2 linked regions of the Homo sapiens genome follow. The protein of the gene in region 1 purifies or fractionates together with the protein of each later gene. This does not show direct contact. Each region holds a gene or a part of one and is shown in the gene's direction. Other genes may lie near its edges.

Region 1 (4,236 bases):
ATGATATTAGCACAATGGTGAAATCACCTAGTGACCCATTTCTCAAGCTCCTCACGTGGCAAGCAATGCATGACTGCATATGAAAGCTCTTAAATAGGGATTGTTTCTAAATTAATCTCAAAACAGTCATTATTTACTATTTATGGAATTTTTTTTAAAAAAAGGAGCAAAAGTATCATTTCAGTGGGAACTTAACTTGGGGCTACAGTGTTTTATTTAACTTTTACCCCAAAGTTGCAAAGTGTTTTGAAATTTTTCCCTGTAAAATAATTATTTTAATTCAATTTAAATAAAACCCACCAAGGAGACTTCAAGCTTTAAGAAGTCTAGCTTCCTGTGAAATGTGAGAGGAAGTCAGCACTCATTTCAGAAATCTGATTATAACAATAGCTCCATCCCTAAATGAGGTGAATCTTGGAATCTCTTCCATTTTATTTTATTTTATTTTTTTGAGATGGAGTTTCTCTCTTGTTGCCCAGGCTGAAGTGCAATGTTGTGATCTCGGCTCACTGCAACCTCTGCCTCCCAGGTTCAAGCGATTCTCCTGCTTTGGCCTCCTGAGTAGCTGGGATTGCAGGTATGCACCATCACACCTGGCTAATTTTGTATTTTTAGTAGAGACGGAGTTTCACCATGTTGGTTAGGCTGGTCTCGAACTTCTGACCTCAGTGATCCCCCCACCTCGGCCTCCCAAAGTTCTGGGATTATGGGTGTGAGCCACCACACCCGGCCCCCCTTCAATTTTAAAGCCATCACTATGCACCCTATGTCTATGCCAGGCACTAAAATAAGATGAAGCACCTTCTTGGAGTTTACATGCTGGTAATTATGCCAGACAGTAATAAAATAGGTAAGAACGGCTGTGGGGGAAGTCAGCTGGGTTCTAGTTACAGTCGCATTTCAGGAAATGATTTAACATGCTGACTTTAACAACCTAAGCCTCTTCTCCATGTGTGCACACAGGGTAGATCTCTGAACACAGGTGACCCTAGAAGTGCTGTAACTTCTAGGGGAATGGCTGTGTTGAGTCAAGGCAGGATGACAGTTCAGCCTCCTCCCAGGCTAGTGCAAAGGGCTCTTCACTCGGATTAAAACCTTCTCTCCCAGACCGAATTGCCAACTCCCAACACCCCTCCTACAGAAAATGTGGAGTCCTCGCTTATTCCCTGGCAGCCCCTACCTAATAGGGTGGTGAATTAATTATCAAACATGCGACAGTTTAGCGAAAATGGCAACACTTTGGAATAAGTGACTGTAATGTGCATCCTGGCGCCCATTTTGCAGGTCAGTTGCTCTCCCTGGAAGGAAGAGTGTTCTCGGATTTCACCTTAAAGGAGGAAGGCTGCCAGAACTGAACTAGCACTTCTGAATATCCTGAGGCGAGGTCCGGTGACTTCCTTGGGAAGCTCTGCCGCGCCCCCACCCCACCCTACCCCACCCTACCCCACCACAGCAGGCGCTGGAGTCCTGGGACCACCAGGGTCTGAGGCCCAAATCCTTCCTCACTAAGGGGAGGAGAGGGGTGTTCCGGCAGGGCAGGATGGGAAGGCGTGCTTGGGCGGGATTGTGACATAAGAGTGCCCTGGTGACATGGAGCAGATCTGTGACATAAATAAAGGTGTCATAAAGACAGGGCGGGGCTCACGCTTAGAAGGGGCACGAGCGTCTCGGAGCTGCCAGAATGTCTTCTGCTCAGTGCCCGGCACTAGTGTGTGTCATGTCCCGGCTGCGTTTCTGGGGCCCATGGCCCCTCCTTATGTGGCAACTATTGTGGCTACTAGTTAAGGAGGCTCAGCCTCTGGAGTGGGTCAAGGACCCGCTCCAGCTCACCTCTAATCCCCTGGGGCCGCCTGACTCCTGGTCTTCCCACTCCTCCCATTTCCCACGGGAATCTCCCCATGCGCCTACTCTCCCAGCAGACCCGTGGGACTTTGATCACCTGGGGCCCTCTGCTTCCTCAGAGATGCCAGCCCCACCCCAGGAATCGACTGAAAATTTGGTTCCATTCCTGGACACCTGGGATTCAGCTGGAGAGCAGCCCCTGGAGCCAGAGCAGTTCTTGGCTTCACAGCAGGATTTAAAGGACAAGCTGAGTCCACAGGAAAGACTCCCTGTTTCGCCCAAGAAGCTGAAGAAAGATCCAGCTCAGCGTTGGAGCCTTGCTGAGATTATTGGAATTACACGCCAATTATCCACACCTCAGAGTCAGAAACAGACTTTGCAGAATGAATATTCCAGTACAGATACACCGTATCCCGGTAGCCTGCCTCCAGAACTCCGGGTGAAGTCAGATGAGCCTCCAGGGCCCTCTGAGCAAGTTGGACCTTCTCAATTCCATCTAGAGCCCGAAACTCAAAATCCAGAGACCCTTGAAGACATCCAGTCCTCTTCACTCCAGCAAGAAGCCCCAGCACAGCTTCCACAGCTCCTTGAGGAAGAACCTTCTTCAATGCAGCAGGAGGCCCCAGCTCTGCCTCCAGAGTCCTCTATGGAGAGTCTAACTCTACCGAATCATGAGGTGTCAGTTCAACCTCCAGGTGAGGATCAAGCTTATTATCACTTGCCCAACATTACAGTTAAACCTGCAGATGTGGAGGTTACCATAACTTCAGAGCCTACCAATGAGACAGAATCTTCCCAAGCCCAGCAGGAGACCCCAATTCAGTTTCCAGAGGAGGTGGAACCTTCTGCAACCCAACAGGAGGCCCCAATTGAGCCTCCAGTTCCTCCTATGGAGCATGAACTTTCCATCAGTGAGCAGCAGCAGCCAGTTCAGCCTTCTGAGTCTCCTAGGGAGGTCGAATCTTCTCCGACCCAGCAGGAGACCCCAGGTCAGCCTCCAGAACATCATGAAGTCACAGTTTCACCTCCAGGTCACCATCAAACTCATCATTTAGCTTCACCCAGTGTCTCTGTGAAGCCTCCAGACGTGCAGCTCACCATAGCAGCAGAGCCTAGTGCAGAGGTGGGAACTTCTCTAGTCCACCAGGAGGCTACAACTCGGCTCTCAGGGTCAGGTAATGATGTAGAACCTCCCGCCATCCAGCACGGGGGCCCACCTCTGCTTCCAGAGTCATCAGAAGAAGCTGGACCTTTAGCAGTTCAACAGGAGACTTCATTTCAATCTCCGGAACCTATTAATAATGAGAACCCCTCTCCAACCCAGCAGGAGGCTGCAGCTGAGCATCCACAGACCGCTGAGGAGGGTGAGTCTTCCCTAACCCATCAGGAGGCCCCAGCTCAGACTCCAGAGTTCCCTAATGTAGTTGTAGCTCAACCTCCAGAGCATTCACACCTGACTCAAGCCACAGTTCAACCTTTGGATCTGGGGTTTACCATCACTCCAGAATCCAAGACAGAGGTTGAACTTTCTCCAACCATGAAGGAGACCCCAACTCAGCCTCCTAAGAAAGTTGTACCCCAACTTCGAGTATATCAAGGGGTAACAAATCCAACACCAGGTCAGGATCAAGCTCAGCATCCAGTGTCACCCAGCGTTACAGTTCAACTTTTGGACCTGGGACTTACCATCACTCCAGAACCTACTACGGAGGTTGGACATTCTACACCCCCGAAGAGGACTATAGTTTCTCCAAAGCATCCTGAGGTGACACTTCCACATCCAGACCAGGTTCAGACTCAGCATTCACACCTGACTCGAGCCACAGTTCAACCTTTGGACCTGGGGTTTACCATCACTCCAAAATCCATGACAGAGGTTGAACCTTCTACAGCCCTGATGACTACAGCTCCTCCTCCAGGACACCCTGAGGTGACACTTCCACCTTCAGACAAGGGTCAGGCTCAGCATTCACACCTGACTCAAGCCACCGTTCAACCTCTGGACCTGGAGCTTACCATAACTACAAAACCTACTACAGAGGTTAAACCATCTCCAACCACGGAGGAGACCTCAACTCAGCCTCCAGACCTGGGACTTGCCATCATTCCAGAACCCACTACAGAGACTAGACATTCTACAGCCCTGGAGAAGACTACAGCTCCTCGTCCAGACCGGGTTCAGACTCTGCATCGAAGCCTGACTGAAGTCACAGGTCCACCTACTGAACTAGAACCTGCTCAGGATTCACTGGTGCAGTCTGAAAGTTACACCCAAAATAAGGCTTTAACTGCACCAGAGGAACACAAGGCCTCCACAAGCACCAACATATGTGAGCTCTGTACCTGCGGAGATGAGATGTTGTCATGTATTGATCTCAACCCAGAGCAGAGGCT
Region 2 (3,500 bases), on another chromosome or scaffold:
CCCTCCCCTTCCCTCCCCTTCCCTCCCCTTCCCTCCTCTTTTTTTTTTTGAAACAGAGTCTTACTCTGTCACCCAGGCTGGAGTACGGTGGCACGATCTTGGCTTACTGCAATCTCCACCTCCCGGGTTCAAGCAAATCTCCTGTCTCAGCCTCCCGAGTAGGGGATTACAGGCATCCGCCACCACTCCCAGCTAATTTTTGTATTTTTAGTAGAGACGGGGTTTCACCATATTGGTCAGGCTGGTCTCGAACTCCTGACCTCAGGTGATTCACTCACCTTGGCCTCCCAAAGTGCTGGGATTACAGGCATGAGCCGCTGTCCCTGGACTCATAGTTTTCATTACCTTGTAAATTTGGGATTATCTACTTTTTATTTTCTGACTTAAAAAAACCTGACCATTCTGAATGTTTGCCCGTATCATGAACTATGCTTTTAGAGCATGATTTTTTTTCATGGTGCATCATATGGACAGAACATATTTTATTTAATCTCCTGTCATTGGACAGTTAGCTTCCTCCTCCCATATTGAAAATACTGAGATGAACATCTTTGTACCACATCTTTGCATGAATGTCTTTGCACTAAATCTTTGCACTTATCTTTTCTTGAAGATAAGAACCCAGAACGGGGTTATGGAGTTAAAAGGCTGGGGATGTTTTGAAAGGCTTTTGATTAAAAATTGTTGAATTGCTCTCCAGAAAGGCTGTTCCAGTTTACATTTTCAGCAAAAGTAGATGAGAGAGTGCCTATTTCTCTGCATTCTTGCCAGCACTGGGTATTACTGTTTTCCTTACTTCTTGCCAATTTTATGGGGAGGAAAAGAGGTGGCTCACTGTGTCAACATTTATTTCTTTGAATACTATGAAATAGAATCCTAGTATCTTTCAGCTGGAGGAGACTCTTGGGGCCAAGTAGTTCAATGCCCTCATTTTACAAGTAGGCAAATTAAGCGCCAGAAAGGTGAAGCATCTTCCCCAAGGTCACACAGCAAATATGTGGCAGGAACTGCTTTGTTCCTGTCAGGGCACCTCCCACTGTGCCAAGGTGAGTTGGCTGTTGGGGTTCAGATAGGGATGTCTTGCCTTCTTTTTATCTATCTATCTATCTATCTATCTATCTATCTATCTATCTATCTATCTATCTATCGAGATGGAATCTCACTTCCGTCACCCAGGCTAGAGTGCAGTGGCGCGATCTCGGCTCACTATAATCGCCACCTCCCGGGTTCAAGCTGTTCTCCTGCCTCAGCCTCCTGAGTAGCTCGTATTAGAATGTGCACCACCACACCTGGCTAATTTTTGTATTTTTAGTGGAGATGGGGTCTTGCCATTTTGGCCAGGTTGGTCTCAAACTCCTAGCCTCAAGTGGTGCACCCACCTTGGCCTCCCAAAGTGCTGGGATTACAGGCGTGAGCCACCACGCCTGGCCTAGGGATGTCTTGACTTCTTCACTGAGGTCTTCTGCTGGGGTTCATCTTGCCCCAGATATCTCTAGCACTCTGGTAAGAAAAAAAGCCAATATAAATTAAAAAGCACATCATCATTATGGTCATAACAAGATGAATCAATTTTCACATTCTGTGTGTGATCTATTTTGCAGGGCAGAGAGTGTCAGAGATTACGTTGCGGCGTTTCTAGGTAACTTGAGATTGGGGTCATATTCTGACCAAGGGCAGAACGGCAGGTGCTGAGGACTTGAAGGTCAGTTCTGCTGTTTCCTGGCTGGGCAATCCTGGCCAGCTCCTTACGTCTCTGAGCTCTGAGGTCCCTTGCGCATGAGACAGGGATGTTTGCACAGGGATCTGCACGTAGTAGGTGCTCAGTAAATGCTCTCCCAGGAAGGAGGCTGCTGGACCGGCTGTATCAGGGACAGCCGTTCTTGGCCACTCCCCTGGGCAATCACAGAGTGAGCTGTCACAGGCTCTTGGCTGAATTGGGAGCGAGTGGCAAACATGGAGGGCCTCTGTGGTGGCCCGGCTGGGTTGGTGGCCGGATTGTTCTGTGTCTGGCTCCTGGCTTGGTGAGTTGGGGAGGGAGAAGGGTTGTGGCAGGCTGGCTTTTAGGCTCCTGTGCGCCCAGGGGCTCAGAGGATGGACAGCAGCCTGCCTGGGATTAAGTCCCAGGACCATCATGGCCTGGACAGTGGCTTTGGAGTCACTAGTTCCCTCTGGGACTCAGTTTCCCTTTCTGTACCATGTTCAAATTCCCAGATAGTGAGACCCAGTGGGGAAGGTACGTCAGGGCCCCAGGGACGGAGTGTGCTTGGGCTGTGGTGTTCAAGACCCAGGCCCTTGGATCTTCTCAGCCTCAGGCATGGTTCTTAGCCTCTCGATACCTTAGTTTTCTTATCTGGGGGTTGGGGATAAGGGACTTCTACTACACAGAGCCGTGTGCGGGGTTAGGAATAACAGACGTTGAACTTGGCGGCTCATCTCGGCCCTCCTTTTGCTCCTGGTGGTGGTGGAGGATCTGCGAGCTGCAGCACGGGACGGTCAGGGGCTGTCACTGCGGTGAGAATCTGGTATTAGGCATGTTCCGTGTGACCCAGGCCTGTCCTTGGTGTTCACGTGTGTTCCTCACCAATTCCACCCAGGAGCCCTGTGGGGGTCCCCTTTTTACAGATGAGGAAATGGAGGCTCAGAGTGGATGAGAGCTGGCTCATGGTCCCACGGCTGGAGAGTGGTGCCATTGGGGTCTGATCCCCGTCCCCTCTCAGCCTGGAGTCTGCACACTGAAGCCCTGGGCCGCGGTGAGGGGCCCCTGCTTGGTGGAGGTGCCAGGGAGCCGCCATGGAGGTGTGCAGGTGAGCGTGAGCGGGCCCGGGTGCCTGGTGTGGGTGTTGCAGGCAGGGCGGGTGCTGCGGGGCACGTGGGCAAGTCCCGATTCACGTGGGCACGCTCCGAGCGTGAGTGACGGGGTCATGGCGTGTGTCAGGAGTGGGTGAGCCGGGCACTCCTGTGCGCACGCGTGTGGTGGTGTGTGAGGGCAGCTCTGTACAGGTTGTAAATGTAGGTGTGCCTGGGGGTGGGGGACGCTGGGGAGGGAGGCACAGACAGGCCGGGAGCCGCGCCAAAGGCTGGGAGCTCAGCTGCCAGGTCTGGAACCAGGTGATAAGCTGCCACTCCCCAAGGCAGTAGGGGAGTATTGTGGTTGGGGGGAGATGACAGCAATGACGACCACCGTTTACCCAGTGGGCACTCGGGACCAGGAGTGCTGAGTGCTGCCCTCTCCCCAAAGCCCTGGGAGTAGGGACCCTTATACCCATTTTACAGATGAGGAAAGGGAGGCCCAGGCAAGTTCAGGGACACGCCCAAGTCCCCCCAGCCAGCCAATCGATGGCCAGTCGGGGTTCAGGCTTAGATCTTTATGTTGCCAGAGCCACGCCCTTCCCACCCGGCGCCTGCCTCCCACCGTCTCTGTGAGCCTCAAAACCTTGGAGTTCCCTGCCAAGGGGAGGGAGCGCCCAGTCCCTGGGAGCATCCAAGCCGCTGCTGGAGCA

The links.
Region 2: the proteins of LRRC37A2 (region 1) and NCS1 purify together in Homo sapiens (affinity purification with mass spectrometry; one large-scale study listed by BioGRID and IntAct). This does not show direct contact.

The regions. Positions count from the first base shown.
Region 1 is NC_000017.11:46,511,032-46,515,267, forward strand, and holds the start of LRRC37A2 (leucine-rich repeat-containing protein 37A2 isoform 1 precursor), read left to right. Parts: upstream 1-1,436; 5' UTR 1,437-1,681; coding exon 1,682-4,236.
Region 2 is NC_000009.12:130,178,904-130,182,403, forward strand, and holds part of NCS1 (neuronal calcium sensor 1), read left to right. Parts: intron 1-3,500. UniProt on the Homo sapiens protein: Neuronal calcium sensor, regulator of G protein-coupled receptor phosphorylation in a calcium dependent manner. Directly regulates GRK1 (RHOK), but not GRK2 to GRK5. Can substitute for calmodulin. Stimulates PI4KB kinase activity.